Linked DNA regions of Homo sapiens. The protein of the gene in region 3 interacts with the protein of the main gene of each other region in a pairwise test. Each region holds a gene or a part of one and is shown on either strand. Other genes may lie near its edges.

Region 1 (7,931 bases), on a different chromosome or scaffold from region 3:
CCTTTAAGGATGGCTACATTTTTGAAGAGGAAAATTTTCAGACATGAAAGCACCAATTTTAAGGGTTTTCTGTGTAGTGCTGATTTCTGATCTGAGTATAATTATTTATTCTACCAGTAGTAGTAACGGTGTAAATAATACCAAATAGTAAATGCTCTTCTTACACATATCATCTCCCAGAGAAAGCAGCATTTAAAAAACAGAAATAGGAGTTTAAATACAAGAAAGAAAACACCAAGAGAAAGGCAAGACTGTTAAAATAAAATCTGTAAATATAACGAAAATGTGGAAGGTGTAATTTGTTTTTTCATTGTTCCTGGCACTTTGGAAATACTAAGTTTACTGGGAGAAAAAAAGAAAAAAAAAAGACATTTATATCCTTACTGCCTTCACCTATACTCTGGCTGTTATAAGACAAATTTTATGTTTTTAAAGGAATGCTCACATTCTTCACTTCTCATGACTTTATGCTGAGAACAACTGTTATTTTATTATGCCAGAATAGCGGAGTACCCGAAAAAGAAAACTGATCTTGGAATGAGGTCAGAGAGAAAGCCTCTTCTGAGGGGAGATGGGTAGCACTAATAGGAAAGACAGCGGTTGAAAAGATGGCCAAGAAATAAGCTAGATGCATTCAGAAAGAGGTGAAAGTCACAGAACTGTGTGTGAATGAAGAGGGATGGGCAGATAAGAGCTTGGATCCCTACAGATTTTTTTGTATGTTTCTATCATATTTATGTGTGTGTGTGTGTCCAGTGGAGTTAACAGAAGATACAAGTTCCTTGGGGTCAGGATCCATGTAGCAGAGCTTTTACATAAAGGGTAACTGACCCACGGGTGTGTGCAATGATGGCATGATCTTATGCATCTACTGAAGAGGCAGGATGTTCTCTCATGGTATAGCATCATATTTCTCCCCAGAGACACTCTATTTGTAATGTGTGAGCCAAAGAAACAACTTAGGATTAGCTTCAATGTGCTCTAACCCATACAAATACAGTTTAATTAAAAAACTACGGTTTCTCTACCTCTGGAAAAGTCTTGGTGGTAGAGCAAAATATTTATTGGGTATTTGATTTTTGTAGAAGCCTCGAGTCTTTATTCTTTATGATCACTATTATATTATCTTGTCCAAAGTCTACACTGCATTGATAGTTTCAATTATATTAATATTGTTTTATTGAACTATAGCTTCAAAACCTAATTTTAAAAAAATGTCTGTCTCATTAAATGACCAATACTGTAGTCCATTGTATTCAACCATAACGTCCACATTTACACTTTCTAAGGAGTACATTGATGGATGACAAGTCTCTTGGTGTGCTGCAGGCTCCATACAAACATCAAGTCTTAGATTTACTACTGCTATTTAATATGAAGTCTTTTAGAATTAGGATTTTAATTCAGAAAGCCCAGCAAATGAAATATATGTAAGCAACCTTTGAATATCTGTAGCAGAAGTTGTATCCACATCAGAAAGTGGTAGCACTTGATTCCTGTTAGTGTCCATTCTGATTTCAAAATCTGAAAGGAAAGAATTGATATTAATTTTTCAAACATTCCTCCAAGTGACTTTCTTTTTCTTTTCTTTTCCTTTTTTTTTTTTTTTTTGAGATGTGGTCTCGCTCTGTCATCCAGGCTGGAGTGCAGTAGTGTGATCTCAGCTCACTGCAGCAACTTCCCAGGTTCAAGCAATCCTTTTACCCCACCCTGTTGAGTAGCTGGGACTACAGGGGCATGCCATCACGCCCATCTAAGTTTTGTATTTTTTTGGTAGAGACAGGATTTTACCATTTGGTCAGGCTGGTCTTGAACTCCTGAGCTCCAGTGATCCACCTGCCTCGGCCTCTCCACATGCTAGGATTACAGGCGTGTGCCACCGTGACCAGCCCCAAGTGATTTTCTGTTTCAAAATGTTTAATAGTACTACCAATAATGATAATAGCAGTAGCTAAAATATATTGAGAGCTAACCATGTGTCAGATACTAGTCTTGGGATTTTAGACACATAAAAATGTGTAGAATTTCATTTATTGGTCACAAGAATTTTATGAGGCAAGAATCAGGCCAGTTCCAGAGGCAATGCTGCACTACACTAAACTGCTGCCACAAATACCTATTTTTTTGGTCAGAAAAAAAGGAAAATAAATACAATAAAATGAAAGGAAATCATATAATGTCCCATACCAATATGATAATTGTGTGGCAAGTGCACATCCTTTGAGAAGTGTCCTTCACCTCCCAGAAGGCTGCTCAGCACCTCTGCCACCTTTGCATTTGTATGTGACGATGGCAGCTCCCGCGGCAGCTGTGGGAGTGACAAGGCTATGTCCCTCAGATAGACAGTATCATCAAGTTTTAGACAAGTATCCAAAGTATGCAGCTTGTAAGCATTCTTCATGTCATCTAAAAGATGAAAAAGAGAGTATATCATTAAGAAGAAATAAATGCAACATTAAAAAACTATATTAGTATATATTTAGTAATAGTTATAAAATAATAAATATATACATAAATGCACTTGTATTTCTAATTATCTCTTTCTTATCACAAGGACTCTCTCTTTGTCTCCCTGGTTTCCACAGGGTCTAAATCAAAGCCCTGCACTTGATAATGTTTTAAGGCTTCAAATATCTTTAGAGGTCATTTAGTCTAAACTCCTCAATTTATGGATAAGGAAATGCCCAGGAAAGTTAAAAAGCCTCGTAATTAAGGCAAAGTTGGAACTAGAATCCAGGTTTCCAAGGTTCAAGGCTGTTTCTCCATTATTACACTGCCTGAAAAACCAGCACGTGGTATTATTGACTGACTCTCTACAACTCAACTTTGGGATTTTATAACATTTATTTATTTATGTTTTAATTCTGAACTACTCTATTCTCAGACACATCGTCAAATTTTGTACATCTACCTGAATATTGCTTTGCCTTATTTAATACTAAAGACTAAAAGTCAACAGTTAATTTGGTTCCAAGAGTAAATGAACTAATTAATTTGGTGGCTATTTGGTTTCTTGATCTAACAGGTGTTCCCTCATCACAGGCCAGGAGTGACCAAGTGTTTACAGCTGCAAAAATTGACTTAGGTTGGCTTCAAATGTGATAAGTAAGGATTAGGAATTAAAACAGCTCTGATCAAAGCATAAAGAACAGCCTGAACAGTTAGCCTTTGTATAGAAGGATAGAGTATAAATAAAAGGAATAATGATGCATTCCTTATTTTTTTCTACATGTAGGACTTGTCATTAAAGAAGGGTCTGTAGGTTTGCTGCTTTGAAGCACTATCCTTTGACTTCACCATTATCAGCCCTTTCCACAGCAACACCTGCTCTGCAAATTTCAACTAACACTGCTCCAACTAAGACCCCATTCAGAGTCATATGGTAGCTAGTGGTAGTGCAGAATTGGTCACAATTGGTGACCAATTCTGCACTAACATCCTACCTGATGTCAGCAGCTCACTGATGATGTCTTTTTGCAGAAGCTGATTAAAAGGAGCCAGGGGAAAGTAATTCATCAAGCAAAATGAATATACTGCATCCAATAAGTTTTCAGAAGAAATAGTGTGAAGATAACCAGTCAGAGCACTAGCCATAACTTCCACGAACTGTCTGGGGAACAAAGAAAAGTCAGTTTCCCAACATATACAGAAGGCCAATATCTGTAACGATTCCAAAGAAAAGAGATAAGAAAATCAGCCTTGCAAGTAAGTATCCACACATCATTCTGGACAGTTGGTTATCTCATAATAAGTGTATACATTCAATAAATGTTGGCTATTGCTGTATGTCTTGCACGAGACAAACATTTTATAGACTTTAACTCATTTAACTCACACTAAAAAACTCCATGGGTATTACTATTATTCTCCTCATTTAAAAAAATGGGTAAACAGGCTTAGAGATTGAGTAACTTGTCTAAGAACACACAGACAAGGAAGTAGCAAAGGCAGTATTAGAACATAAGGTGTCAGGCTCCAGAACCTTTTCATAATTATGCTAGATTTTCTATAACGCCTGGACCACCACTACAGTTTTATAACCAACTAAAATTATCTAGTTATCAATACTATGGGTTAAAAGAACTGCAAGCCTAATCCTACCACCCACAGCTAATGGTACACAGTATAACGTGGTTAAGCACAAATGAAGACAGAAAAGATCAAAATCAGGGGCAGTCGCTTGCCCAGAGTGACACCACTAATAAATGGTAGATACCCTTTGAACACACGTCAATCTGATTCTCAGGGCATATGATACATATAGTTATATAAAAAAAGAAATACATGCAAAGTACTGTGATCTCGCAGAGGAAAGAAAATAAACAGAAGCTTTTGGGAGGAGAATTTGAATAAGTGGAAAAGATGGAATAAGGGAAGAAGATTTGAGCACAGCCCTGAAAGCACATGCTACTTGCCTGATAGTGAATAACTGGTGAGATGAAGGTACAGAGGAGTGTTTCTTAACAGCTGGGGCAAATATGCCTGGACACAAGCCCTTGTTAACAATGAGACTGAAATCAACTGAGAGGTCCATGGGTAGGGGAAGAAGTGTTGGGGAGGATGAAGGGCTGTGATAAGGCCAGGAAAACGATAGGAATTATGATGAAATGGGAGGAATATAACAGATCATATACGCAATAGCAAGGCAGCACGTCTGAAATTAGTACTGACTGCTTTTGGAACATGCAGTGGGATGCGGGGGCAGGGGATGGTGTGGACAAGGAAGTTGGGAGCCTGGGTAATGATCCCCCCTCTGGTCTTCTCTTGCCCCACTCCTCACCCTGTACCTCATGCTTCAGCAGCCCAAACTGTGTGCTGTTCCCTGCATGTGCTCTGCTGTTTCTTTCCTCCAGGTCTTGCATATAGAGGGCCTTTCACTTGGAATGTTCTTTCCTGCTTATCTTTCCATGGTAAAACCCCATCTCTCCATCTTTTAAGATCAGCTCAGATACCAACCCCTCCAGGCAACACTGCCTGATATCCCCTGACCCTCCTCTTCACCAGGCTGGCATCCTGATATATCCTTCCTCTATTTCCAAATATCCTAGATGATATGGTTTGGCTGTGTCCCCACCCAAATCTCATTTTGAATTGTAGCTCCTATAATTCCCTTGTGTTGTGAGGGACCCAGTGGTAGATAGCTGAATCATGGGGGTGGTTTCCCCCATACTCTTCTTGTGGTAGTCAATAAGTCTCACGAGATCTGATAGTTTTATAAGGGGAAACCCCTTTTGCTTGGCTGTCTCTCTTGTCTGCTGCCCTGTGAGATGTGCCTTTCATCTTCTGCCATGATTGTGGGGCCTCCCCAGCCATGTGGAACTGTGAGTCCATTAAACCTCTTTCTTTTGTAAAGTGCCCAGTCTCGGGTATGTCTTTATCAGCTGCGTGAAAACAGACTAATATGCTAGATCACTCGAATTTTCATGCTATATTTAACTGCCAATTTACATATCTACCTTACCCATTACACAGAATCCTCTGGCAAGAAGGACTGTCTTATTCATCTTTCTCCTAAGTGTCCAGGTGCTTGGCAAATGCTGACTAAACGAACAAATAAACTTTGATGAGGAAGACAGGAGGACGAGCTTGTCATTGGAAAACGATGAGTCAAGAAAAATAGCTGACTTCCAGAATTACTGAACTTGAGACACTTCTGGGATGTGCAGTGACCATATGCAACCCACAGAGACTCAGGTCTGGAGTTAAGGAGCACACTAATGACCACAGATGCAAATGTGGGATTATCCATAAGGTGGTAAATACAGATCAAGAAGAGAAGAAACCAAAGGACCAAAACAACAGAGCTTAAACGTTACATATTTGTTCCTTGGGTTCAAAGCCCAGCAAGATACTCTGGATTTAACACCCTCTCCCCGATGGGCCATCATAAATGAAATAATGATTAATGTATAGCATGTGGGTATACAATAAGCCAGAATTCCTACCACTCTCCTATCTAACCATCTCTTCTAGTCAACTCTCTTCCCAAATACTTTGAGTTATTCTGCTTCCAAAACCTTTGCTACTCCAGATAAGTTGCCATCTTCCTTTCTCCTTCCTCCATAAAGCACTTACTTGGTGCCTACCATGTACTGCCTTCCTCTGGATATACAACAGAGTTGTTCTCATAAATGGTCTAGGAAGAGCAGGGAATACAAACTTCTTTTTTTATAGCCTTCAAAATACCAAATCCAGGCAATTGTACATTCATGGGCATTCAGGAAATGGTGACTAATTAATCTTGCTATATCTGCCATATTGCCCCTACTTCTCCTTTGGAGAAATGTTGAGGTGGGAGGCTTAGAATTAGGTAAGGGTTTCTCAATCTCAGCACTACTAACATCCGGGGCTGGATAATTCCTTATTGTGAGGGGCTATCTTCTGCATAGTAGGATGTTAGCGGCACCCCTGGCCTCTGTCCACTAGAGGCCAGTAGCACAGACCTCCCTCCTGTTGTGGCAACTAAAAACCATCTCCATACCTTGCCAAATGTCCCCTGGGAGGCAAAATCATCCCTGTTTGAAAACCACTAGGTTAAATGAAAGCAGAATAGACAGACAAAAAGACAACATTCATGATTCTCCTCCTGTACTAATTCTACTACTGCCATTTTATTAAATGTCCTCCCAGCCTTTGTTACCTTTGTTATCCCCCCTCTATTTTCAATGTAACAATTTTGTTGGAACAAGTTATCTCTCAGGTTGCCTGGAGTCACCTGAAAAACTCTTACCCGCCCAGTACTTACTCTCTTAATCCCTCTGGGGCTGTTTCTGGAGTTTTAATTACCACTTAGCTTGATATTATTTGTCTAGAAAGTACAAGGCATCAATGGGAGCCAGCCTCAGAAGAAAATGAAGCCAGGGGAGTAAAGGAAGATTGAATTTGGGAGATATTTTTCGACCTTTATTAAATGTCTACTCTTTGGCAGGTCCTGTACTAAGTTCAGAAAAACAGGCAGCTGGGTCGGACTCCGGAGAGCTTACCAACTGAGGAGCAGAGACAGACTTACTGACACAACAAATGATGTGACACAACTTGTCATGTCTTACCCAGTCTCCGGTGCAGCCTGTTGTCAAGGCTGCACCGGAGACTGGGTAAGACATGACAAGCACAGGGACTCTGACGGTGACAATTAGGGAAGACACAGGAAATGCAGTATGAGCTGAGTCTGTCCATTCAGTGGACAGTACAGTGGGAAGCTGCTTTTTAGTTGGCCTGACACCACTTAATTGATTAACTGCCCCTAAGGGATGGGCATTTGACTCAAACTCAGTCAATCAGATGTTCTCTTTCAGAAATCTAAATCTGGAGGGAAAACTAAAAGGAAAGCAAGCAGCTGGAGTCAAGTCATTTGATGGCAAACAGATGGCCTGTGCATCTTGCCACTGAGACCTTCACAACTGCCCTAGTTTGTTCCCCCAAGGCCTCTGTGACCTACACTCTAATTTTTTTCAAATCTAAAAATTACTATGTGCTGGGCATTGTCATAAGAACTTGACATAGATTAACTCATTTAATTCTAATAACAACCCAATGAGATTAGACATAGCTCATCTCCATTTTAATAAGTGAATAAACTGAGGCACAGATAAGTAATTTGCCAAAAGTCAAGCAGCTAACAAATGGCAATGCTGAAACTCAAACCTAAGCAAGCTAGCTCTAGAGTCCATGCTTTTAATCACTGTTTTAACAAATGACATTTTATATGCTTTTCTGATTTTTAATGAACCCTGACTGATCCAAAGAGTAAGAAAAGATGTTCTGGGTAGAAAGCAGAGGTATGAAAGAAGCTGGCACATTTGAGGAATTACTGTATTTAATAGTAGGAATGCATGGCTGTGGTTAAAATGAAAAGAATAGAAAGCAGTAGCTTGAGACCAAATGAATAGTTAAGGTCAAAACTGAACTAGAAGAAGGTCCAGTTCTCACAG
Region 2 (8,219 bases), about 86 Mb from region 3:
GGCGCTCATCACCGGCACGTCTTCCCAGCCCGGCAGGTCCCGACACAGGGCCCGGCGCCCCCCACCGCGCAAAGCCAGGATAGGAACACACAGGCGAGCGCACGCGGACAGCCCCCCAGTCTGGGCACATGGCGGCACCTACTTGGAAAAGATGACCATCAGCTTCCTCCGGCTCCGCCGCGGCTCCGCGTCCTCATCAAAGCCACCCAGGTCCTTGCCTAGGAAGACCTCCTGGTGGAAGCCGCGATTGAGGTGCCCGTCCATCTCCAGCTTCACCCCGTTCAGGTGGTCTGGGGGCAGGATCTCATTCTCCTCCCTGTTGGCTACTCTCTCTCGAGTGGACGAGTGGTTGGCAGGCCGTGCAGACGCGTCCATCAGAAGGACTGCCCCCAGGAGCCAGAGGCAGCACGGAGCCAGGCCAATGAGGGGACCCCACCTGGACGCCATCGCCACCCAGGGCCAGACCATGGGGCGGGCTGCAGGGTGTGGGCCAGGTGCTGGGAGGGGCAGGGGCAGGGGCAGAGGAGGAAGTGAGGTCCTGGCTCCAATCCAATCCCCGGGCACCACGGAGGGCTCTGTGTCCCCAGGACGGCCGCAGGATGGGGACAAGCAGCTCACAGTCTGCAGAGAGACACAGACACATCATTAGCAAGACTCAGCAAAGACTTCCCCAAGCACGTCTATCCTGCAACATGAAACATATCCTCGATTCACAGGATCCAGACATGTGGCATCGCCTTCTCCAGACCACACGTGGCACTGCCTTCTCCAGACCACACGTGGCATTGTTTTCTCCGGGCCACACGTGGCATTTGTTTTCTCTGGACCACACGTGGCATTTGTTTTCTCCGGACCACACGTGGTGTTTTTTTCTTTATTTTTAGAAACAGGGTCTTGCTCTGTCACCCAGGCTGGAGTACAGCGGTGACCACAGCTCACCGTGACCACGAACTCCTGGGCTCAGGTGATGCTCTGGGCTCAGGTGATGCTCTCGCCTCAGCCACCGGAGCAGCTGCGACCACAGGCGTGCACCCCCACGCCCAGTAATTTATTTTTATTTTACTCTTTGTAGAGACGGGTCTCGCTGTATTGCTCAGGCTGGTCTCAAACTCCTGGCTTCAAGCGATCCTCTTGCCTCAGTCTCCCAACGTGCTGGGATTACAGGCGTGAGCCACTGTGCCCGGTCTTTTTTTTACAGACACTGAGTTTTCAGCCCTGTCTCTCCGTCTTTCCATCTCTCTCTCGAGCTGTCAGCACCTCCAGGGGCTAACCTGTCCCCATCGCCCAACACCTGCAGCACAGCTTTCCTGTGGGGCCCGGCTCTGTCCCTCCTGGCATCATGCCACTGACCCATGGGGTTAGGGTCACTCTCCAGACCCTGACTTGAACATTCTTGAGATCTATGACCTTAGCTAAGTCATGTGGCCTCCCCGGCCTCAGCTTCTCACTAAGAAACAGGAGGCTCCCCCTCTCCCCCCGACTGACCAGGCTTTGCGAAGACAGCCAACCCTAAGTGCAGAGGGCGTCAGGGCCTGGTCCCAGCAAACAAACACACAACCCCCACACACAGATGTGCACACACACATCCACACTCACGCATGCACGTATTACACACATGTGCCCTTGCCCACACTCGCGAGCGAACGCCAAGGCCGAGGAGCCCAGAAGTCTGTCCTGCCGTCCGAGGCGTGGCCAGTCCTGGTGGGAAGCAGGGGCTCACAGGGCCTCATGCCTCATGTATCCCAAAGGGAACTCGGGGTCCTTCTCACCCACGAGCCTACTCCTTTCACAGTCTGCCCCTCCGGCAAACACCTGCGGGTCCTTTCGGGTGCCGCTGAGGCCCCGCCATGTCACAGCTGTTCCCTCAACACACATGGACTGAGACTCCTGTTCTGTGGCCGTCTTATTCAGCTTCACTGTTCTGGCACCTGCCACTCTGCCTGCACACAGTAGGCGCTCAACGAATGCTACCCTGGGTAATATTAAACGAAAAAATGCTGCCTCCAGGTATCGAGAAACACCAGTGGGGCCGCCATGAAAGTGGTCCTGAAGTCAGTGCAGTCTGCCACAAACCAAGAGGGGTACAAGCCTGAGTTCCCCCAAGGAAGGAAACCCTGGGTGAGGGGCTCATGTCTGATTTTTTTTTTTTTTCTGAGACAGAGTCTCACTCTGTCGCCCAGGCTGGAGTGCAGTGGTGCAGTCTCGGCTCACTGCAACCTCCACCTCCCAGGTTCAAGTGATTCTCCTGCCTCGGCCTCCCAGTTAGCTGGGATTACAGGCACCCACCTCCACTCTCCACTAATCTGTATTTTTAGTAGAGATGGGGTTTTGCCATGTTGGCCAGGCTGGTCTCTAACTCCTGACCTGAAGTGATCCTCCTGCCTCGGCCTCCCAAAGTGCTGGGACTATAGGCGTGAGCCATGCACCCGGCCTGATTTTCTGAACATGGCTGAGGGCTTTTCCCTTCCCTAGTGGTGGCATAATTCTATTCCTGTCGTCCCAGATCGCCTGACCAGGGGAGAGTCCTGGATAAGAACCAAGACACCTCCTCCTGGTGCTGACTCCACTAACTACAGTCGTAAAACACACGCTGTGTGCAAAGAGACTGTACTTTGTTCCTAGAGAAAATAAAGCTAGTTCTTGATTCTACATATCTTGATGAGTTACACGGTTTACTTGAGGCAGGAGGATCGTGAGACCAGCCTGGGCAACACAGTGAGACTGCGTCTCTTTAAAAAACAAAAACAAAAAGATAAGACCCTGTCTCGAAAAAGGGGGAATAAAAAGTAACCCAAAAGTAACTATAAATATCAGGAGTCCATCAAGTGGCGCTTCCTCTCCTGGCTTCAGAGTATCTATTCATCACGGTGTGCCAGGTTCGCAGCACAGCGGAGCGGGCCGGTCCCACCGGAATGGGGTTTCGACTTCGCCATCCCCTAGCAGCTCAGTTCCCAGCAAGGAATCAACACACCCTTGCAAAACGGACGTGGGAAACAGCTTAGGCAGAGACGCTATTTCTTTGCCATCCCTGGGCTTCAGCTCTGGTGGAACGAGGCTATTTCTGGCAGTTAACAACACACACGGTTAGATTCTAAAAGCTCAACAGGGTTCATAACACCGCCTCTGAGCCAGACATCAAGGGCTCCACACAGCCGACTTCACATCTCCAAATCCTACTAACTGGGGATGAGGGTCCACGCGGTTCAGAAGCGGAAGCGCAGGCGCAGGGAAGCGGGGCAGCTTGTCCAAGGTCGCCTCGCCGATAAACGCGAGTCCAACCAGACCCCTTGGGCCTCCGTTTCCCGGTGGCATTCGTAGGTTTTGGCCAGTAGGAGACCAGACGTGCCGGCGGCCGGGGAGGCCAGCGTCGTCGGCCTGTCCCTGCCCCCGGGAACCCCGGGAGCCCCGGTGGCGGCGGAGTCTCGCCAGGGCTCAAGGCCGAGCGGACGGACGATGCCCCAGCCCAAGGCGGGAGGCGGCGGCGGCCTCCAGACCCGCCCTCGCCGTCCGGCCGGCGTACACTTGGCCCCGCGGCCTGCAGCGGCCGTCCCGGGCCCCTCACTCACCGGTCTGCCTCCCCGCGCTCGGGATCCGAGGACCGGAGCGAAGCGTCAGTGACGCCGCCAACGGGCCCGGATCAGGCCACTGCCATCTTTCTTGCGGGCGGGGGCGGTGCGAACGGGCGCGACCTCACGGAGGGGACGCCGGCGCCACCATCTCTCCTCCGGGCGGAAGCGGTCGCGGGGCCGCTCCGAGGTTGACCAATGACAAGGGTGCCCGAGGCCACGTGACGGCCGCCGATTGGCCGCCGGCCTCCGAGCGCCCCGGGGCTCGGCGTCTGCGGAAGGCCCCGGCGCGCTCCCAGGAGCGCCGTGCGCACGCGCACCGCCCCGAGCCGGCGGCGCCTGCGCACTCGCGAGTCCGGCCTGGGCCGCCGGCCCGGCGCGGGCGCCATGAAGCTGCTGCGGCGGGCGTGGCGGCGGCGGGCGGCGCTAGGCCTGGGCACGCTGGCGCTGTGCGGGGCGGCGCTGCTCTACCTGGCGCGCTGCGCGGCCGAGCCCGGGGACCCCAGGGCGATGTCGGGCCGCAGCCCGCCTCCCCCCGCGCCCGCGCGCGCCGCCGCCTTCCTGGCAGTGCTGGTGGCCAGCGCGCCCCGCGCCGCCGAGCGCCGCAGCGTGATCCGCAGCACGTGGCTTGCGCGGCGCGGGGCCCCGGGCGACGTGTGGGCGCGCTTTGCCGTGGGCACGGCCGGCCTGGGCGCCGAGGAGCGGCGCGCCCTGGAGCGGGAGCAGGCGCGGCACGGGGACCTGCTGCTGCTGCCCGCGCTGCGCGACGCCTACGAAAACCTCACGGCCAAGGTGCTGGCCATGCTGGCCTGGCTGGACGAGCACGTGGCCTTCGAGTTCGTGCTCAAGGCGGACGACGACTCCTTCGCGCGGCTGGACGCGCTGCTGGCCGAGCTGCGCGCCCGCGAGCCCGCGCGCCGCCGCCGCCTCTACTGGGGCTTCTTCTCGGGCCGCGGCCGCGTCAAGCCGGGGGGGCGCTGGCGCGAGGCCGCCTGGCAACTCTGCGACTACTACCTGCCCTACGCGCTGGGCGGCGGCTACGTGCTCTCGGCCGACCTGGTGCACTACCTGCGCCTCAGCCGCGACTACCTGCGCGCCTGGCACAGCGAGGACGTGTCTCTGGGCGCCTGGCTGGCGCCGGTGGACGTCCAGCGGGAGCACGACCCGCGCTTCGACACCGAATACCGGTCCCGCGGCTGCAGCAACCAGTACCTGGTGACGCACAAGCAGAGCCTGGAGGACATGCTGGAGAAGCACGCGACGCTGGCGCGCGAGGGCCGCCTGTGCAAGCGCGAGGTGCAGCTGCGCCTGTCCTACGTGTACGACTGGTCCGCGCCGCCCTCGCAGTGCTGCCAGAGAAGGGAGGGCATCCCCTGAGCCGCCGCGGCCCGGCCCTCCGGGACACCTGCTTCACCCGGCGGCGCCTTGGGGCAGGTGCCGAGCGGGCGCACTACGCCCGGGCCCCAAGGCCCCCGTCCCGCAGCCACGCTTGTGGTCGCTGCGTCCCGGTCTGCGTTTGGGAGACCCCTGGGGGTTGCCGGGGCAGCGCGCCGTGTCCAGGTGGAGGTGCCCGTTCCTGGACCTCAGCGAGCCTGAGCCGGGCCCGGCCGCACGCTGACCCCCGTGCTGTCCCCGACCGGCTCACGGGGCTGGGCTCCGATCTTCCGTGTCTCTTATCAGTGGCGTTTCTCACGTCTGCGTCTCAGATCTAACGTGGTTTCACATCAATCCGCTTTCATGGGATTTTGGTCTCTGTCCAGTGACTTCGTGGTAAATGTAACTCAGTGTTTGCTTGCGACTTATTTATAAATATTGTAAGTTTGTGTCGATGAGTGTAAGTTGGCAGTGCGCACGTCTCGGTTTTTTTACATGATTTAAGGAAAGACTTTTATGTCAGAACTTGGTGCCTGTACCGTCAACCCCGCTGCTGCCCGTGTTTAAACGCAGGAGAACTTTAAAACTGGCCATCTATCTTTTCAGTGTACAAGTCACTGAACCCATTGTTTCTTTCTGAAGAGACTTTCCTTTCAAGGCTTCCCATGGGTCCGCGCCACACAGGGCCGGTGCTGCTTTATTTCAGACTCTGCCCCAGGTTCCAGGAATCCGAACCCCGGAGTGCTGACGCGGTTCCCCAACTTCCGCCTTAAGAAAACAGGACCAGCCGGCACCAGGCCCGTCTCTCACGTACTTTAACACATCCTTGAAAGCCCCTCGTTTAATGAGAAAAGCGAACACTGCGGTCCTTGCCAAAGTAAAATGAAGCTGCCCCAGGACAAGGGGTTACCATGAGCTCCCTGGAGTCCGACGCGGGTTTTCTCTCTGGGGGACCTGGGTGGTCCCCGCTGTGGTCTTTGTTGTCCCACTTTGGGACCGGGTCCAGTCTGGGGTCTAGTCTCGAGCATCAGGGTCAGGCTCGGGGCAGGGCTGGGTTAGGCTCCGGGTCAGTCTTGCCATGGGTTTGGGAGCAGGTTTGGGTTACTTGCGTTTGAAGGCAGCAGTGGTCTCAGGAGGAAGAAACGGGGGCGGGAGAGAGTGGTGATCTGTGGTCAGTGGGTCAGTGACCTGCACGGTGATTCTCCCACCTCCAAAAGGTAGGGGTGGGACTGGAGGCGTCCCTAGGTCAGGCCGTTGAGTTCGAGCTCCGATGGGCCACCTTGAATCCAGGACTGACCGCCCGTGTGTGCACAGTTTGTTCTTGGACGAGGACTCGTGAGGATCGAGGGCTGGGGACCCCGGTGTGAGCAGGATGGGGCCCTGCCCTCCCGTGGGAGTTGTGGACTCGAGCCCAGGGGCTGCCCGTCACAGCGGTGTCCCAGGTCCCTGCCATCCGATTTTACCTGGGATGTCTTCTCTGGAGTTTGGAATTGCTTGAGGAACCCTGCGTGTGCTTGGAGAGGCCAGAGGGCTTGCTGAGAACCCCATGGACAGTGGAGAGCGGGATTCGAACCAAGGGCTGGACTCCCACACCTCTGGCCTGCGTCGCCCAGTTCTTTGTGGCTCTGAAGAATTGGCCGCTGTGGAAAAGAGCAAATGTCCGAGACCCCCAACAGGAAGAGTCTAAAAATCCAGTTTGCAACCACTTCTGACCTACAAAAAAATGGAAATTTAGTGTTTTTCAGCCTAAGACATTAAATTTCATATCAGAACAAAGCCTGCCCCAGGCTGACCCTCCCCAGCCGTACCGTGGTGAACGGGTTCAGAGGATACGTGGGCTGAAGGCTGGGCCTCGGGAGGGCTGGGGGCTTCCAGAGCCGGGGCAGCTGCAGCTCTCTCTGGTCTCACCTGGAACTTGCCCTGTAGATCCTCCCTGCCCTGCGGCTCCAATCGACCGTGCACGGGCCGTGGCATCCGTCCCCCAGGCGTCCTTCCCTGGTCTTAGCTTGTACAGCTCCCCACCCACCCAGGTACTCGGTTCCCGGAGACCAGGGCCAAACCAGGAGGCCCTCGGGAGATGGGGGGTCACCGAATTCATTTCCATGTGGGAACTTGGGATACAAAACAGCCAACTCTTCCTCAGCCACACGGATGTTTCTCCTCTAGTGGCCCCGAGAACCTACCATGGAGGGGACAGTGTCAGGGCTGGACGGGCACGGCGCAGCCACACGCACACAGCCCCCAGGAGGCACAGGGCCGGCAGGGAATGCAGGTCAAGCCAAGAGGATGGGCTCTGGTCCCTTCAGGATCCCCCAGGAGGAGAGCACCCCCTTCTGCCCTCTTCCTGGGGACTATGGTCCTGCCTCTCTGCCCCCTGAGGCTGGCATGCAGGCACCTGACGTTGGCTCCAGCTCTCTGGGCCAGCCCTGGGTACCCGCCGGGCCTGTGGCCTGGTTGGTCACCCCCAAGATGCAAAGTGCTACCTGCATCCGGAGGCACCCCCGCCCCTGAGGCCTCCAGGTTCCCACCTGCCCACCTGTGTCTGGCTGGGATCCTGGCTGTCAAGGCTCCTGTTACGGGACTGAACTGTGCCCCCTAAAAGATATTCCAAGCCCTAACCCAGCAGCTACAAACTGACCTTGTCTGGAAGTCGGGTCTCTGCAGGTGGAATTGCGTTAAGGCAAGGTCCTGAGGTGGCCTTACTCCCACGGAACTGGTGTCCTTACCAGAAAAGACCTGGGAAAAAGCCACTGTGTGGCTAGAGACTGACACCCAGGCGATGCCTCTGCAGGCCAAGGATTGAGGACCCTCCACCCCCACCCCACCAGGCAAGGAAGGGCTCTACCCAGAGTCAGGAGCGTGGCCTCCAGGGCTGCGAGGGAAGACGCCCCGTCCAGCAGCCCCAGGATGCCAGCCCAGTTCCCTGTGCCCGGCGCTCTTCGGTGCAGACGCAGGCAGGGGCTCCTGCAACCTTGTGGCATCACAGACGCCCAGCACTGACTGGGCCCAGATCTCCTCCCCGCAGGGCTCAGCACACACCCTGTTCCCGGCAGGCCTCCATCAGTCCAGCCTGCAGCAGGGCTGCCCCCGCGGCCTGGGTCACCCCAGACTCTTCCACCCTCTCCCTGGCTGACTGTCCCAGCTCAGAGTCCTCAGGTCTAAGGGGGTCACGGCCCTCCTGTGGCCCCACCGGCCCCAGGCTCCCCAGCTGTGGCACTGTGAGACCAGCTGACGTTGCAGGAATGGAAGCCCCAGCGGCCCAGACGGCTTGGGGAGTCC
Region 3 (7,931 bases):
TGGCCTCAAGTGATCCCACTGCCTTGGCCTCCCAAAAGTGCTGAGATTACAGGTGTAAGCCACCATGTCTGGCCTAGATAAAGGATCTTATTGGAGGGAGTTTTATACATCTTCAAGTTATTTGGCAGTTAAAAGTTTTAAATATTTCTATGATATTCTATTAAAGAATATTAATTAAAATTTTATGTTAATATAACTATCTGTAATCTATGAAACCATTTCCAAATAACTAATGAGGAATTTGCATTTTGTTATAATATTAGAAGGTATGTCAATTCGTGATATATTTTCCTTCTCATACCCACAATACTCACCTCATCTGCCAGAAGTGATAATTCAGTACTGTTTGCTGCATCATAATCATAGAGAACCCTGGCCTTTCTGCTGCCACTACACTCCTTAAGGTCACTGAGGTTGGAAGGAGAGGTGATTACTAGGCCACTTGTTGAAGCCATGGCAGAAGAACCAATCGCATTTGGTAAAACTGATGGTACAGGTGTCACAGAAGTCTGATTGTTGTTACTAAGATAATTGGATGGAAAACTGTTGAAAAGAAAGCAGCGAATTATTTATTTCCAAGTGACTAAAGCTCCTTAATACCACCACTCGGTGGCGCTGTTTACTTTCTACCAACCTTCACATTGGAAAAGATTTATAGATATTAATAATACGTTAATGACAAAGTATATCTATCTTCCTTTTCCCTCTTGGGCCAATTATACTAGAGACAATTCAGGTGGTATTCAAATATAAATCCTTGAAAGTCTGTTTCAAAACTGTCCTTATAATATTAACTTAAAATTAATGGCTATACTTTTTTCCCCAAAAAACTTCCATTAGAATGTTTTCTTAATCTTTTCTTTATAAATTACTAAATAAAAATATTGATGAAAAACTACTTAAATATTAGATACTACAAGTATGAGGCTTTCTTAATTTAATTCTTTGAGAAATATTTGAATAACTAAACCTTTTTTTCATAAACTGGTCCAATCACATTTTCCTATTCAAATAAAATATTTATTGTCATTTACATGTAAGTATTATTTACTTGTATCTACATGTTCAGCATGACTATGAGAAGCAGAAGACGTAAGATGAAATGATACTATTCCCTTAAGGACATACACATAGTGAGAAGGTAGACATTCAAATAATATGACTGCTAATTATCTCAATGAAATTGAAGACTCAATGGTAGAATAGGACAAATTTTACAAGTTCATTTGTGCTATTTTTTAGAAAAATTTTCTATTAGAAATTAGTGATTTTTGTGATTAATGTGCTCATAAATAATTTGAAGATAATTAGAATTTTCAGTTTATTTTAAGGCTAGTTTCCCCAATAATACCAAATATAAAACAGTACAAAATAGCTGGTCTGACATCATTCTAATTCAACCATTTCTAAGCTAAAAAATGATCTACAAAAATTCAAAGTTTTAATAAATTCATTAAACTAGAAAAGTCCTCTTTTCTCTTCACGAGCACTATACCATCTGGAAATCATTTCAGTCATCAGCAAAATTCCCTGTATCCTTAACCTCTTCTCTAAACCTTCCCTTCATCCTCCAGTGCTAGCGTTTATCTCCCATACTCCTCTTTTATCACTGAACCTAGAGGTCAATGGAGGAGTCTTATGTTCTTCATCACTGTTTTTAGACTCTTTTCCCTAAACAATTCTAGCCAATCCTTCAACTTCATGTTATTCAACTATAGCACATCATCTTTTCCTCCCACATTATCATATTTTATCATATTACATTTTATCATATTATCTTTCCTTCCCATATTACATTTTCTCCATCTATTGTATCATTCCCAACTCTTTAAAAAAAGAGATACCCAGTATCTCTTACTGCAATCACCTACAGATGCCTCATTCCCTTACTTTCATTTCTAGAAGATTTTATCACCTGGCTCACTGACATTATCTCTTACTTAATTCTTGGTGACTTTAATATCCAAATGGACAATTCTTCCAACCCTTTAGCCTCTTAGATCCTCGAACTCTTCTCTTCTAGTGACTTCATACCTGATCCTAGTTCAGCCACCTATTCCCACAGTCACATCTAGATCTTACCAATTCCAGTAACCACAACCCTTCCAATAATAATAGTTTCTACTATCCCATTCTTTGACCATCGCCTTTTTCTTTCAAGTGCTCTCACATCAACAAGCCTACCAGGGTCTATGATCCTACCAACACCTTCTTCATGTCCATAGTTAATTATTATAATAACTCTTAGATATGCTCTCATTTCTTATGCCACTCACTTCATTGTACTGATTTGGTAAAAACCTATTTACCTATTCAGTATCCATGCATCTACTTTAACAGGAGAAACACAGAAAAGCTTTGTTTTACATTCAATTTATGACTAGGAACCTCAAGTGGGTCCACATGCCACCTGGCAATGATACTACATTTCTCTACTCCATTCACTTTCACTTTCATTCCCCTGATGACTATTTCATACCCTCTTGCCCATCCTCAAAATTTCAGCAGTTCTCCCCATAACCATTACACTCAGTTGATGAGCTTGCTTCCTTTTAACTGAGAGGAAAAAAGAACAATCAGGAACTCCTTTTTTTTTTTTTGATACAGGAGTTCATTCCTTTTGCCCAGGCTGTAGTGCAGTGGTTCAATCTTGGCTCACTGCAACCTCTGCTTCCTGGGCTTAAGCAAGCAATTCTCTCGCCTCAGCTTCCTGAGTAGCTGGGACTACAGACATGCACCTCCACACCCAGTTAATTTTTGTATTTTTTTGTAGAGACAGCGTTTCACCATATTGACCAGGCTAATCTCAAACTCCTGAGCTCAAGTGATCTGCCCACCTTGATCTCCCAAAGTGCTGGGATTACAGGCATGAGCCACTGCGCCTGGCCAGGAAACTCTTTAATGAGCTGTCTATGCTCCTGATGCTAATTCCTCCATATGTGCACAAAATCTCATCCTTTTTTGCCTCTCTAGGGTATCACTCTAGCAATTCTTCCCTTTCCCTCCCACATTATCATATTTTCTCCACCTAGTGTATCATTCCCATCAGCTTACAAACATGCCCTTATTTCTCCTATCTTAAAAAACAAGCAAAAAATTGCTAGACCCCACTTTCTCCTCCGACTACTGCCTCATTCCTCTGTTCCCCTTTACACCAAAACCCCTTGAAAGATTTACGTATTCTTACGGTCACAATTCCTCTCCTCCGAGTCTCTTATATTACAAACATTACTTTGCGCCTACTGTTTCACCAAAACTACTCGTCAAGGTTAGCAATGACTTTAATGTTCCTAAATCCAATGGTCAATTCGTAGTCCTCTCACTTGACCTAGGCAGTGACCATTCTCTCCCACTTTCACACATGTTCACTTGACTTCCAGGCCATACTCTTAGTTTCCATTTTACCTCACTGCCTCACTCGTTATCATCTTCCTTGCCTCGTTCCTCAACTCTCTATGCTAGAGTACTTCAGGGATCAGTCCTTGATCCTCTCCTTTTCTCTATACTTACTCCTTTGAGGGTTTATCTAGTCTCACAGATTTAAATATCTTTGATATGCTGACAACTCTCTAATTATCTAATTCACCCTGCCCCCAATCCAAGTCCAGACCTGCATATCCTAAAATTGGATACCTCCACTTAAATGTTTAAGAGACATCTCAAACTTAACATATTTAAAACTGGGCTTCTAATATAACTGACATACTTCCCAGACCTCCATCCCTGAAATCTTTGCCTCCTCTGGCATTCCCCATTTTAACTATCTACAACTCCCCATTCTTTCAGTTACTTAGGTCAAAAACTTGCAGATGGACGTGGTGGCTCACGCCTATAATCCCAGCACTTTGAGAGGCTGAGGCGGGCAGATAGCCTGAGGCCAGGAGTTCAAGACCAGCCTGGCTAACATGGTGAAACCCCTTTTCTACTAAAAATGCAAAAAATTAGCTGGGCATGGTGGCGCACACCTGTAATCCTAGCTACTTGGGAGGCTGAGGCAGGAGAATCTCTTGAACCCGGGAGGCAGAGGTTGCAGTGAGCCGAAGTTGCGCCATTGTACTCCACCTTGGACTGGAAGAGTGAAACTCTGTCTCTAAAACAAAACAAAACAAAACCTTGCAATAATTCTTGACCTCTTTGTGTCCAATATACATACAGTCTGTCAAGCAAATCCTTCTGGCTTTAAGTCTAAAATACACCCACAGTCACGCCTGTAATCCCAGCACTTTGGGAGGCCGAGGCGGGCAGATCACAAGGTCAGGAGATCGAGACCATCCTGGCTAACACGGTGAAACCCTGTCTCTACTAAAAATACAAAAAATTAGCTGGGTGTGGTGGTGGGTGCCTGTAGTCCCCGCTACTCGGGTGGCTGAGGCAGGAGAATGGCATAAACCCAGATGGAGGAGCTTGCAGTGAGCCGAGATTGCGCCACTGCACTCCAGCCTGGGCAACAGAGCAAGACTCTGTCTCAAAAAAACAAAACAAAACAAAACAAAACAAACAAACAAAAAACAAACAACACCCACAGGCCCACAGGACCTGACCACTTCCATCCTACCTACCACAATTACCCTGATCCAAGCCACTGCCATCTTCTGACTGAATTACTGACTACATTATTGCAATAAGTTTGAAACAGATCAGTCAGCTTCCACCCAACACCTATCCTCAACGTGGCAGCCAGAATGATTCTGTTAAAGCCTAAAATTATGTCACTCTTCAGCTCAAAATTTCCAAAGGCGCCTCATCTCTGAGTAAAGACCAAAGTCGAAGCCCTATATGTTTTGGCTCCCCGTTTCCTCTACTCGTCTCTAGCCAAGCCCTCCTTGCTGTTCCTTGACCATACCAGCTATGTCATGCCCTCAGGGTTTTTGTACTTGCTGCACCCTCTACCTGGAGCATCTTCTCTCAGATGCCTGCATGTGTGCTTTCTCACGTCTTTCTCTACTCCCATCAAAGTAGTTTCCTGCTATATTTTCCGGTACACCATTTTCACCTTCTAATATACTATATAATTTATATACATATTGCTTTTCTGCTCCCTTCTGCCCCCATATAGAATGTAGATTCCAGGAAGGCAGGAATTTTGATTATTTTATTTATATACTATATCCCCCACATCTGGAACAGTACATTTTAAAAATGAAAAGCAAATGTTTCTCTGATGGATAAAGGGTGAAATAGTTTTAAATATAGCTTTTCCTCTCTAAAATTAAGACCACCTGTCCTAGTATCCTTTCCTCAGTGAACTCGGTTCTTCAGTAGGGATTAAATACATACATTTCTGAAGATAAGAAAAAGCTCTATTTATATGAATATGTATATACACATGGCTTTTTTAGTTCTCTAACCATATTTTACTTCCAAATCTACTAGTATGATTTTAGCCTTTGATTAGCCACTGAAGTGTACCTATGTCAATTTTGCAGAGTTAAAGATTTAAAAAATGAACTGAAAGGCCATTTTTACCTTCTAAGAACTTTTATTGATACGTTAAAAAATCATAGCAATTACTCATTCTATAAAAATGTCAATTAAGCCACTGGAGCTTGAAATGCAAAAGCCTTCCAATTATTAAAAAAATTGCTAATCTTGTGACTAGTACTTCTGCTTTCTCATCTTTAAAATATGGATAATAATAGTACCTACCTCATTTGGTGGTGAGGATTATAAAGTTAATAATACACATGAGGTGTCTGGAAGAGCACCTATGCACAACTTAAGCTCAACCAAAGTGATGGCTGTTATTCAGTTACTTCTACTACCTGTTGGTACTGTTATTGCAACTATTAACAATACAATCTGGTTCTCTTCTTCATAAATAGTTTTTGAATGTGTTAGTGTGAAGCTGGATGATTTGTCAAGTTCTATATTTGAATATTTCTATGTATTATCTTAAAAAGCATAACCTGCAACAAATTAAAGAGATAAAACTTCCTCCAATGTCATTGGTCATTAGCAATAATATAATTGAGGGTGGAGAGACAAGCTAGACTTTCTTTTCTAGAATAGTAGCACTGGTTTTACTTTGTATTGCTGGAGCTTATCTCAAAGAGCAGTAATAACGCAACAACTGGATTTTGTTTAAATGGCCAAGTCCTAAGCATAGTGTGGCTTTAAGTAGAATGCGAGTATAAGCAACCCCTATGCCGCACTTCCAGAGTTTCAGGATAAAGTGGAAAAAAGTACTAAGGCTTCTTGGGCTTAAAATAGTTATAATGATGTGAAGATAAAGTGCTGTTCTGCCTTGAGATATTAACACCACTAATAAAACCTCAAATATATAGTTATGTAAATGCTCCTGTATATTCTATTAAAATAACTAATGATTAGGCTACCATTCATTTTTGAGGTTCAAAATTGGTTTCATGGACGTGCTCAATTTTATTCTAGGCCAAGTTTTGAAGTGTTAATGTGCAGAAACAAACACCAAAGTGACTTTATTTACCTTATTCCTTGAAACGATTTTTTGATATTCATCCTTCAAATGCTACATATCGCTCCCCTGCTTTAATGGTTCCTCAATATATAAATTCCAAACTCCTTACAACAACTTACTTTAAAAGCCATTCATGGTATGACCCTGCTTAACTCCTCTAGATTCATCTACCATTCCATTCTTGAACACTATGCTCCAGCCTGAATGGACTACTATCAGTTCCCCGAACTTTCCCTACTCTCTTTCTTCTGGCTTTTTTATAAACATATTCTTCCTTGCTTAGAATATTCATCCCTGTCCCTTTCTTCATCTAGATTATTCCTACCAAGATAACTTCACCTGGGAAACTCTGCTAGATGTACCTCAGTCACAGTTAGATGCCTTCACAATACCAGGCACCTTCTGCTTTTCTGCCTACCACATGGCCTGTCTACCAACGGCTTGCTTTGTATTTCTACCTAGGCTAAGTGTTGTGAGAGCAGAGACCATGTTTGCCCTAAACATTATTTTATTTTCAGTGTCACCTTATAATGTGAGCTCCATAAAGGCAAGCATCTTTGCCTGTTTTGTTTGCTGATATTACCCCACAATATGTAACAGTGCTTGGCACATGGCAGATAGTCAATAAATACGTGATGAATGAGTGATTGAGCTTTGTGTTTTACATACTGTCATTTTGCTTTGAAGTATATTAACATACTCAAAATAATCACATCGGTAGATATGAGGTCTTACGAAATATTCTAAAACTTTTTTTCAATATAGTAAACAGATGAGTAATGAATAAGTATAAATTAGTTTATCTTTAAGGGTAACTGTCAATTTAATTATATCTTCCTCAACCAATAGCAAAAAGTATTCAGTAGCAGGAGAAAAGTGAACTTGAAACACTTTTAACCTTACAGCACTGAAAAGGTATTCACTTTTTCTCATCCCTGTTAACATGCCTCTGTGCCAGAAAAGCTCAAAATATTCTGTTACCTCAGAAAACTGATAATTACTTTCCTTAAAAAAAAGAAACTATTTCTAAGAAAGCTAGTAAGAACCTTTAATTGCTCTAATCTTCATCCTTAGTATTAGTTCATAAGCAAAAATCTGAATTTCTCCTCTTTACATGTGAAAAGTAAATTATCACCTTCCCAGTTGTTTCTGGAGGTCCAACATATACTGGTAACACTGTGCATAGTAAGTCATCTGGGCTTCTACAAAGTCATTCAGACAGCGAAGGTGATGGGCCTGTGAAGGAAAATTATAGTTAGTTCTTAGCTGTATAGTCAACTTAAATGGCAAATGCAAGGGGGAGACAGACCACAATATTGTACTGAGGTAGACTCACCAGTATCTAACATTTTACTACAAGGCTTATTAAGATTGGCCTTCGTGAATAGTACACTAGCAAACTCTGCTTAGCCAATAAACAACAACATGTATATTTAATGAGGGTGGGAGAACTCGGTGATAAGATGTAAACAACAATTTAAAATATTTATTCGGA
Region 4 (7,473 bases), on a different chromosome or scaffold from region 3:
TAGCAGTTTGAGTCTCATTGGCTCTGACTAGGTTGAATGCTTATTCCTAAACTAATCATTGTAACAGTAATTCCATACTCTGAAAAGTCAGGCTTATGTTGTTCCCAAGAGGAAAACTGTGGCACTATTACCAGAAGAATGGTGATAAGATGCTAGGCTGCAGTATCAATTGATGTCTATTACAGTTAAATATATTTTGCAGCTCAGCATCTATATAAACCTTTCTAGCCATACATACATGTCCAAAGATCTCTCTAATTTTTACTTTGGCCAACTACTGATAGAGTATGAATTGTTGTCTATTTGGAAAATATCTTTGCAAGAATAACTGCTACCTTAACTTTTTAGACAACAGATTAGTTAATGATTGTTTTTGAACTTCAAATAAATTGAATAGAATAATGTGTGCCCCTTTGTTGTCTGGCCTCTTTTTTAAACATATTTCAGAGATTCATTTATGTTTTTGCATGTAGTTGTAGCTTGAACATTCTCACTACTGCATGATATTCCAATGTATGAATATACCCCAACATATACAATATACTGCTGATGGAAATGTAGGTGTTTTGTAGTTTGAAGTCATTACAAATAGTTAAACACATTTTTTTCTTTTTCAAACCACTACTGAGGTATGATTTACATACACAAAGCTGTACCTATTTAATGTATACAACCTAATGATGAACACATGCATTTTATAATAAAAAATAGGGTTTGAGATTTCAGTAATAGGAGACTAAACAATTCAAAACAACTTTCCCTGAAATCTGAACAAATTAACTAAATCTGAACAAATATAGTAAAAAAGAAAATCCACTCTCAATGGCATCTAAAAGCTGAGAAATACGAAATAATTACCTAGCTGAGATAGGAGGAGAACAGGTCCAAGAGGCAAACAGGGCATTTGGTGGATGTTTTTCTACTGGCAAAGTTTACCCATTCTAGAGGGAACCACTGAAAGACTTTGATGCTCAGCAGAACTTGTGACTGCTTGTTAAATACATGAATACAGAATCTGGAGTTCAGAACCTTGGTAACCCCCCAACCCCTTACTTTTCATTGAAATTCCAGGGTTGAAATCTTAGGAGTAACAGTTAACCACAGCTTTAAAAAAGCCCTCACTGAGCTTCATCCCTGGGACGCAAGGCTGGTTCAACATATGCAAATCAATACACGTAATCCAGCACATAAACAGAACCGAAGACAAAAACCACATGATTATCTCAACAGATGCAGAAAAAGCCTCTGACAAAATTCAACAGCACTTCGTGCTAAAAACTCTCAATAAATTAGGTATTGATGGGACGTGTCTCAAAATAATAAGAGCTATTTATGACAAACCCACAGCCAATATCATACTGAATGGGCAAAAACTGGAAGCATTCCCGTTGAAAACTGGCACAAGACAGGGATGCCCTCTCTCACCACTTCTATTCAACATAGTGTTGGAAGTTCTGGCCAGGGCAATCAGGAAGGAGAAAGAAATGAAGTGTATTCAATTAGGAAAAGAGGAAGTCAAATTATGCCTGTTTGCAGATGACATGATTGTATATCTAGAAAACCCCATCATCTCAGCCCAAAATCTCTTTAAGCTGATAAGCAACTTCAGCCAAGTCTCAGGATACAAAATCAATGTGCAAAAATCACAAGCATTCTTATACATCAATAACAGACAAACAGGGAGCCAAATCATGAGTGAACTCTCATTCACAACTGCTTCAAAGAGAATAAAATACCTAGGAATCCAACTTACAAGGGATGTGAAGGGCCTCTTCAAGGAGAACTACAAACCACTGCACAAGGAAATAAAAGAGGATACAAACAAATGGAAGAACATTCCATGCTCATGGGTAGGAAGAATCAATATCGTGAAAATGGCCATACTGCCCAAGGTAATTTATAGATTCAATGCGTTCCCCATTAAGCTACCAATGACATTCTTCACAGAATTGGAAAAAACTGCTTTAAAGTTCATATGAAACAAAAAAAGAGCCTGCATTGCCAAGTCAAACCTAAGCCAAAAGAACAAAGCTGGAGGCATCACGCTACCTGACTTCAAACTATACTACAAGGCTACACTAACCAAAACAGCATGGTACTGGTACCAAAACAGAGATATAGACCAATGGAACAGAACAGAGCCCTCAGAAATAACACCACACATCTACAACTATCTGATCTTTGACAAACCTGACAAAAACAAGAAATGGGGAAAGGATTCCCTATTTAATAAACGGTGCTGGGAAAACTGGCTAGCCATATGTAGAAAGCTGAAACTGGATCCCTTCCTTACACCTTATACAAAAATTAATTCAAGATGGATTAAAGACTTAAACGTTAGACCTAAAACCATAAAAACCCTAGAAGAAAACCTAGGCAATATCATTCAGGACATAGGCATGGGAAAGGACTTCATGTCTAAAACACCAAAAGCAATGGCAACAAAAGCCAAAATTGACAAATGGGATCTAATTAAACTAAAGAGCTTCTGCACAGCAAAAGAAACTACCATCAGAGTGAACAGGCAACCTACAGAATGGGAGAAAGTTTTTGCAATCTACTCACCTGACAAAGGGCTAATATCCAGAATCTACAATGAACTCAAACAAATTTACAAGAAAAAAACAAACAACCCCATCAAAAAGTGGGCAAAGGATATGAACAGACACTTCTCAAAAGAAGACATTTATGCAGCCAACAGACACATGAATAAATGCTCTTCATCACTGGCCATCAGAGAAATGCAAATCAAAACCACAATGAGATACCATCTCACACCTGTTAGAATGGCGATCATTAAAAAGTAAGGAAACAACAGGTGCTGGAGAGGATGTAGAGAAATAGGAACACTTTTACACTGTTGGTGGGACTGTAAACTAGTTGAACCATTGTGGAAGTCAGCGTGGCGATTCCTCAGGGTTCTAGAATTAGAAATACCATTTGACCGAGCCATCCCATTACTGGGTATATACCCAAAGGATTATAAGTCATGCTGCTATAAAGACACATGCACACATACGTTTATTGCGGCACTATTCAAAATAGCAAAGACTTGGAACCAACCCAAATGTCCAACAATGATAGACTGGATTAAGAAAATGTGGCACATATACACCATGGAATACTATGCAGCCATAAAAAATGATGAGTCCGTGTCCTTTGTAGGGACATGGATGAAGCTGGAAACCATCATTCTCAGCAAACTATCGCAAGGACAAAAAACCAAACACCGCATGTTCTCACTCATAGGTGGGAATTGAACAATGAGAACACATGGACACAGGAAGGGGAACATCACACAATGGGGCCTCTTGTGAGGTGGGGGTAGGGGAGAGGGATAGCATTAGGAGATATACCTAATGTAAATGAGGAGTTAATGGGTGCAGCACACCAACATGGCACACGTATACACATGTAACTAACCTGCACATTGTGCACATGTACCCTAGAACTTAAAATATAATTTAAAAAAATAAAAATGAAAATAAAATAAAAAGCCCTCACTGAAACTATGACATATCTGCAAATTGCTTTCCATAAAAATTGTATAAACTTTCACTTGCATCAGCACTAGATATGAAGCTTTTTCATGATCAATGACATTAAGTAATATTTTAATGTTCTTTCATACTTTGACTGTTGAATCGAGATTATTATTACTTCTATTTTTCCTTGTAGATGTTATTTTATTAAGTGTAGTTGTTCTGTTAACATCCGACTCATCCCCTCATTCAAATACCATAAGTATCTGAATAAGAAAGATACCATTAAGCATTGTTTTGTTTACAGAGTTTTTGGTTGGTTCATTTGCTTTCTGTTCAATTTTATTTTGCTGCTTTTTACCTTTTAATAAATCAAATATTGATACTGGTACAACATTAGTATACAACCTTTCTCAAAATATTTAAATAATTATTTCAACATTCCTTAAAGAATACCCAACGTTTCTCCACTGATTTATAAAACTATAACTTTAATTATTTCTTATAAAGTTATTTTTTTGCAAAGCTTTCTATTCCGATACATAGATCTGATTACTGGTTATTGTGGAAATATTATGTCAAATGCCCAGTACTGGGAGAAAAGCCAAATTATAAATCACTTTAAAATTGAGTTTTACGGACCAAGTGCAAGATATGTAACAGGTGCTCAATAAATATTTGTTGAATGAAAAAATCGATTAGAAAACATCTAATTTCCTGGAAAAATTAATAGACATGAATTGCAGATAAAAAACAAATCCCAGTTTTGCAAAAGTTTAGGAAAAAGGAAAAAAAACTATGAGCATTAATATTTTGCTGTGAGGCCCTCAAAAATGGGAGATGGGACTGCAGTTGATGATTTTCCTCTTAATATTAATTTCCTAAAATGTAGATAGTGTTCACGTTGTACATGCAATTATCTTGCAATAAAGAAAAGGAAAAAAAAATCCCTCGAAAACAAAAACAAAAATGCCAGGAAATATCAGTCAGCAAAAATTAGGTAGAGACTGGGTCAAAATGGCAGACTTACCATAGTGAATTTCTCTGTTCCAACTCCAAATCCTTTCAAAAAGAGGAAAGACATATTTACGTGTAAAGAATAAATCCATAAGGGCATGGGACGGTGCAGGGGCAGGGGTGGGCGCGGGGGTGGGCGCGGGGCGGCAGCAAGGCGAATTCCAAGAAGATGGAAAGCAGGGCAGGCAGACTAAGAAGGTGGAGGTGGGAACCAAGTGGCCCTGAAACGGGTGAGGAAGGGGCCACAGGGTTCCGAGGACGACTGTGGCACGAACTACTCCGGATTTGGAAAGAGGCGGAGTCAGAGCCCATAGCTCCGCCGGGGCTACAGGCTGTGTGGTGGGCGTGGGAGCCTGGTGGAGAGGAGAGCCGGGTGTTTGACAGGAAGAGGAGGCCTCTCTCTGGGCAGGAAGCTGCGCTACGGAAAGAGGGAGGAGACTGCCGCGGCGACAGCAGGGACTGGTGGAATCCCGATGTGGCTGAGGGGCCGCCACCGCCAGCAGGGAGGCGGAGGGCTAGCGAGCCAAGCGGTGGGGACGCCGCTGCCTTCCTCTTTGCCTGTCTCGCCGCCCTCCTAGACACGCTCCTCATCTACGGATCCTACCCTCCCCGCTCTTGCAAGCATTCACTCGGCCGGTCGCCTGCTGACCCTCCTTCGCCACAGGCTCGTAGCGGAGGCAGCAGCGAGGTGTCCGATTTGGGCACGTGAGGCCCGCGATCCCCGGCGGTGGACGCCAGGCAGGGCAAGGCCATTAGTGGGCGCCAGAATGGAGAGGGGGATGGGAAGGAATCCAGCAGGAGACATGGGGTGGAGTTGGGCGCCAGGCAAGGGTGGGGTGGGGGAGTGCGGTGAGCAACATGAAAAGGGGGTAGGAACGGGAGCCAGACAAGGATTTGAAGGTGAGCGCCGGGAAGCAAGGGCGGTGGGTACCAGAGAAGTGGTTAGGGTAGGCAGGGGGTGTTGTGGACAGCAGCTGGGACGCTCAGGGAAGGAGGGCAGTGGGTGCCGGTCAAGGCCTCTTTGCAAGGGGATTGGAAGTGGACGCCAGTGGTAGCAAGGGGTTCCGGGAGGGCAGTGGGCTCTGAGCTAGGAGGAGGTGGCCCAGCCACTTCTGCAGAGTTCCTAACCCCAGACAGCTCTACTGCACCACCCCAGCCCTTCCCCACAGCCCAAAGGAACTTAAGAGGGAGAGCACTGCGGGCATGCAGCCAGGATTTCCAGCATTGCTTCCAGGCTCCTAGGGGAAACTTAGGCACTAGCGCAGACTACATCCAGACATGGCTATAGGGAAAAGTTTGCCTTGTGGCACACTGGGTGTGTCTCTCTATCCTCTCTCCTCCCCCAGCAGGCATGAAGACCCCCAACGCACAGGAAGCCGAAGGGCAACAAACCAGGGCAGCTGCAGGACGGGCCACTGGGTCTGCAAACATGACAAAGAAAAAAGTCTCCCAAAAGAAGCAGAGAGGCCGACCTTCATCCCAGCCCCGCAGGAACATCGTGGGCTGCAGAATTTCTCATGGATGGAAGGAAGGAGATGAGCCCATCACGCAGTGGAAAGGAACCGTTCTGGATCAGGTGCCTATAAATCCCTCTCTTTATCTGGTGAAATATGATGGAATTGACTGTGTCTATGGACTGGAACTTCACAGAGATGAAAGGGTTTTGTCTCTTAAAATTCTTTCTGACAGGGTGGCATCATCTCACATTAGTGATGCCAACCTTGCAAATACCATAATTGGCAAAGCAGTGGAACATATGTTTGAGGGAGAGCATGGTTCTAAGGATGAATGGAGGGGGATGGTCTTAGCTCAAGCACCTATCATGAAAGCCTGGTTTTATATTACCTATGAGAAAGATCCTGTCTTGTACATGTACCAGCTTCTAGATGATTATAAGGAAGGTGACCTCCGCATCATGCCAGAATCCAGTGAGTCTCCTCCAACAGAGAGGGAGCCAGGAGGAGTTGTAGATGGCCTAATAGGTAAGCATGTGGAATATACCAAAGAAGATGGCTCCAAAAGGATCGGCATGGTCATTCACCAAGTGGAAGCCAAACCCTCTGTGTATTTCATCAAGTTTGATGATGATTTCCATATCTATGTCTACGATTTGGTGAAAAAGTCCTAACTGTTAGGGTAAAATTTGGCACATGTGTGGAAACAAATGTATAATTTGTAGACATGCAAAAAATGTTGCCTTTCAGTGTATTGAAAGCTTATGGAATCCCTGATAACTAAACATCTTTGCCAGCATTAACTGTTGTTTTGCTCTAAAAAATACAAACTTGTGTGTACATGACATGCTGTGTGTAAGCCCTTTGTCTTGTTGAAAAGATCGGGTGTGTTTGGTGAATGGGGCATGAAAAGAAGGAACAGCTATCAGAGAGCTTGTGGCTTAGAGGAAAATACACAGAATAAATTGAGTAGAGAGGAACACAAAGAACCTTAGAAGAGGTCCAGAGTAAAGAGGAGAAGGATCAACCTGACAGGGTCTGTGGAGAGGATAAAGGATACTCAATGGAAGAGGCTATGTGGGTTAGAGTGTTAGAGAGGTTAGAAGAAGAGGGCCACTGAGGAAGAAGGAGTTCAAAGAAGAAAGACTGACAGAGGGATTGGGAATACAGGAAAAGAGTTGTGGGGTGTGGGGCCCATGAGAGATCGGAAGGCCCAGGAAAATGTTGGACTTCTGGTAGTGTCCACATTGCTCTTCCTGGCTCTATGCACAAAGGAAGTGGCATCTGTCAAAGATGCCAGATACATTGGAGGTTCCCTAGAAGGGCATTCTGACAAGGATGACTCAGTAAGGTTAATCAGGAGGAAAGTTTATACCCGTAAGGCTTTTCCTGTTTCAGGGAGTTCAGGACGCTCCTACCCAGCAGAACCCCAACCCTCAGCCTGAACACACTAACACGGTTCCCCACATGTGCTGGGCTGCGGGCTGCCTCCTCACATTTGTCCTGCGCTAGATAAACAA

Evidence for each region.
Region 1: the proteins of SH3GLB1 (region 3) and FASTKD2 interact in binary tests that used the Homo sapiens proteins (3 or more experiments, as listed by UniProt).
Region 2: the proteins of SH3GLB1 (region 3) and SDF4 interact in binary tests that used the Homo sapiens proteins (3 or more experiments, as listed by UniProt).
Region 4: the proteins of SH3GLB1 (region 3) and SPIN2B interact in binary tests that used the Homo sapiens proteins (3 or more experiments, as listed by UniProt).

What each region holds. Positions count from the first base shown.
Region 1 is NC_000002.12:206,782,412-206,790,342, reverse strand, and holds part of FASTKD2 (FAST kinase domain-containing protein 2, mitochondrial), read right to left. Parts: intron 7,110-7,931; exon of another isoform or gene 7,035-7,109; intron 3,611-7,034; coding exon 3,444-3,610; intron 2,407-3,443; coding exon 2,188-2,406; intron 1,525-2,187; coding exon 1,440-1,524; intron 1-1,439. UniProt on the Homo sapiens protein: Plays an important role in assembly of the mitochondrial large ribosomal subunit.
Region 2 is NC_000001.11:1,228,326-1,236,544, forward strand, and holds the start of SDF4 (45 kDa calcium-binding protein isoform 2 precursor), read right to left. Parts: upstream 3,677-8,219; 5' UTR 3,567-3,676; exon of another isoform or gene 3,182-3,566; intron 622-3,181; 5' UTR 469-621; coding exon of another isoform or gene 448-468; coding exon 143-447; intron 1-142. Other genes in the region: B3GALT6 (beta-1,3-galactosyltransferase 6 precursor), read left to right, coding at 3,954-4,943. UniProt on the Homo sapiens protein: May regulate calcium-dependent activities in the endoplasmic reticulum lumen or post-ER compartment. Isoform 5 may be involved in the exocytosis of zymogens by pancreatic acini.
Region 3 is NC_000001.11:86,734,820-86,742,750, reverse strand, and holds part of SH3GLB1 (endophilin-B1), read right to left. Parts: intron 7,673-7,931; coding exon 7,572-7,672; intron 544-7,571; coding exon 315-543; intron 1-314. UniProt on the Homo sapiens protein: May be required for normal outer mitochondrial membrane dynamics. Required for coatomer-mediated retrograde transport in certain cells. May recruit other proteins to membranes with high curvature. May promote membrane fusion.
Region 4 is NC_000023.11:57,119,007-57,126,479, reverse strand, and holds SPIN2B (spindlin-2B), read left to right. Parts: upstream 1-4,931; 5' UTR 4,932-5,242; exon of another isoform or gene 5,243-5,266; coding exon of another isoform or gene 5,267-5,399; intron 5,400-5,845; coding exon of another isoform or gene 5,846-5,850; coding exon 5,851-6,627; 3' UTR 6,628-6,798; downstream 6,799-7,473. UniProt on the Homo sapiens protein: Involved in the regulation of cell cycle progression, this activity is related to the inhibition of apoptosis following the removal of essential growth factors. Exhibits H3K4me3-binding activity.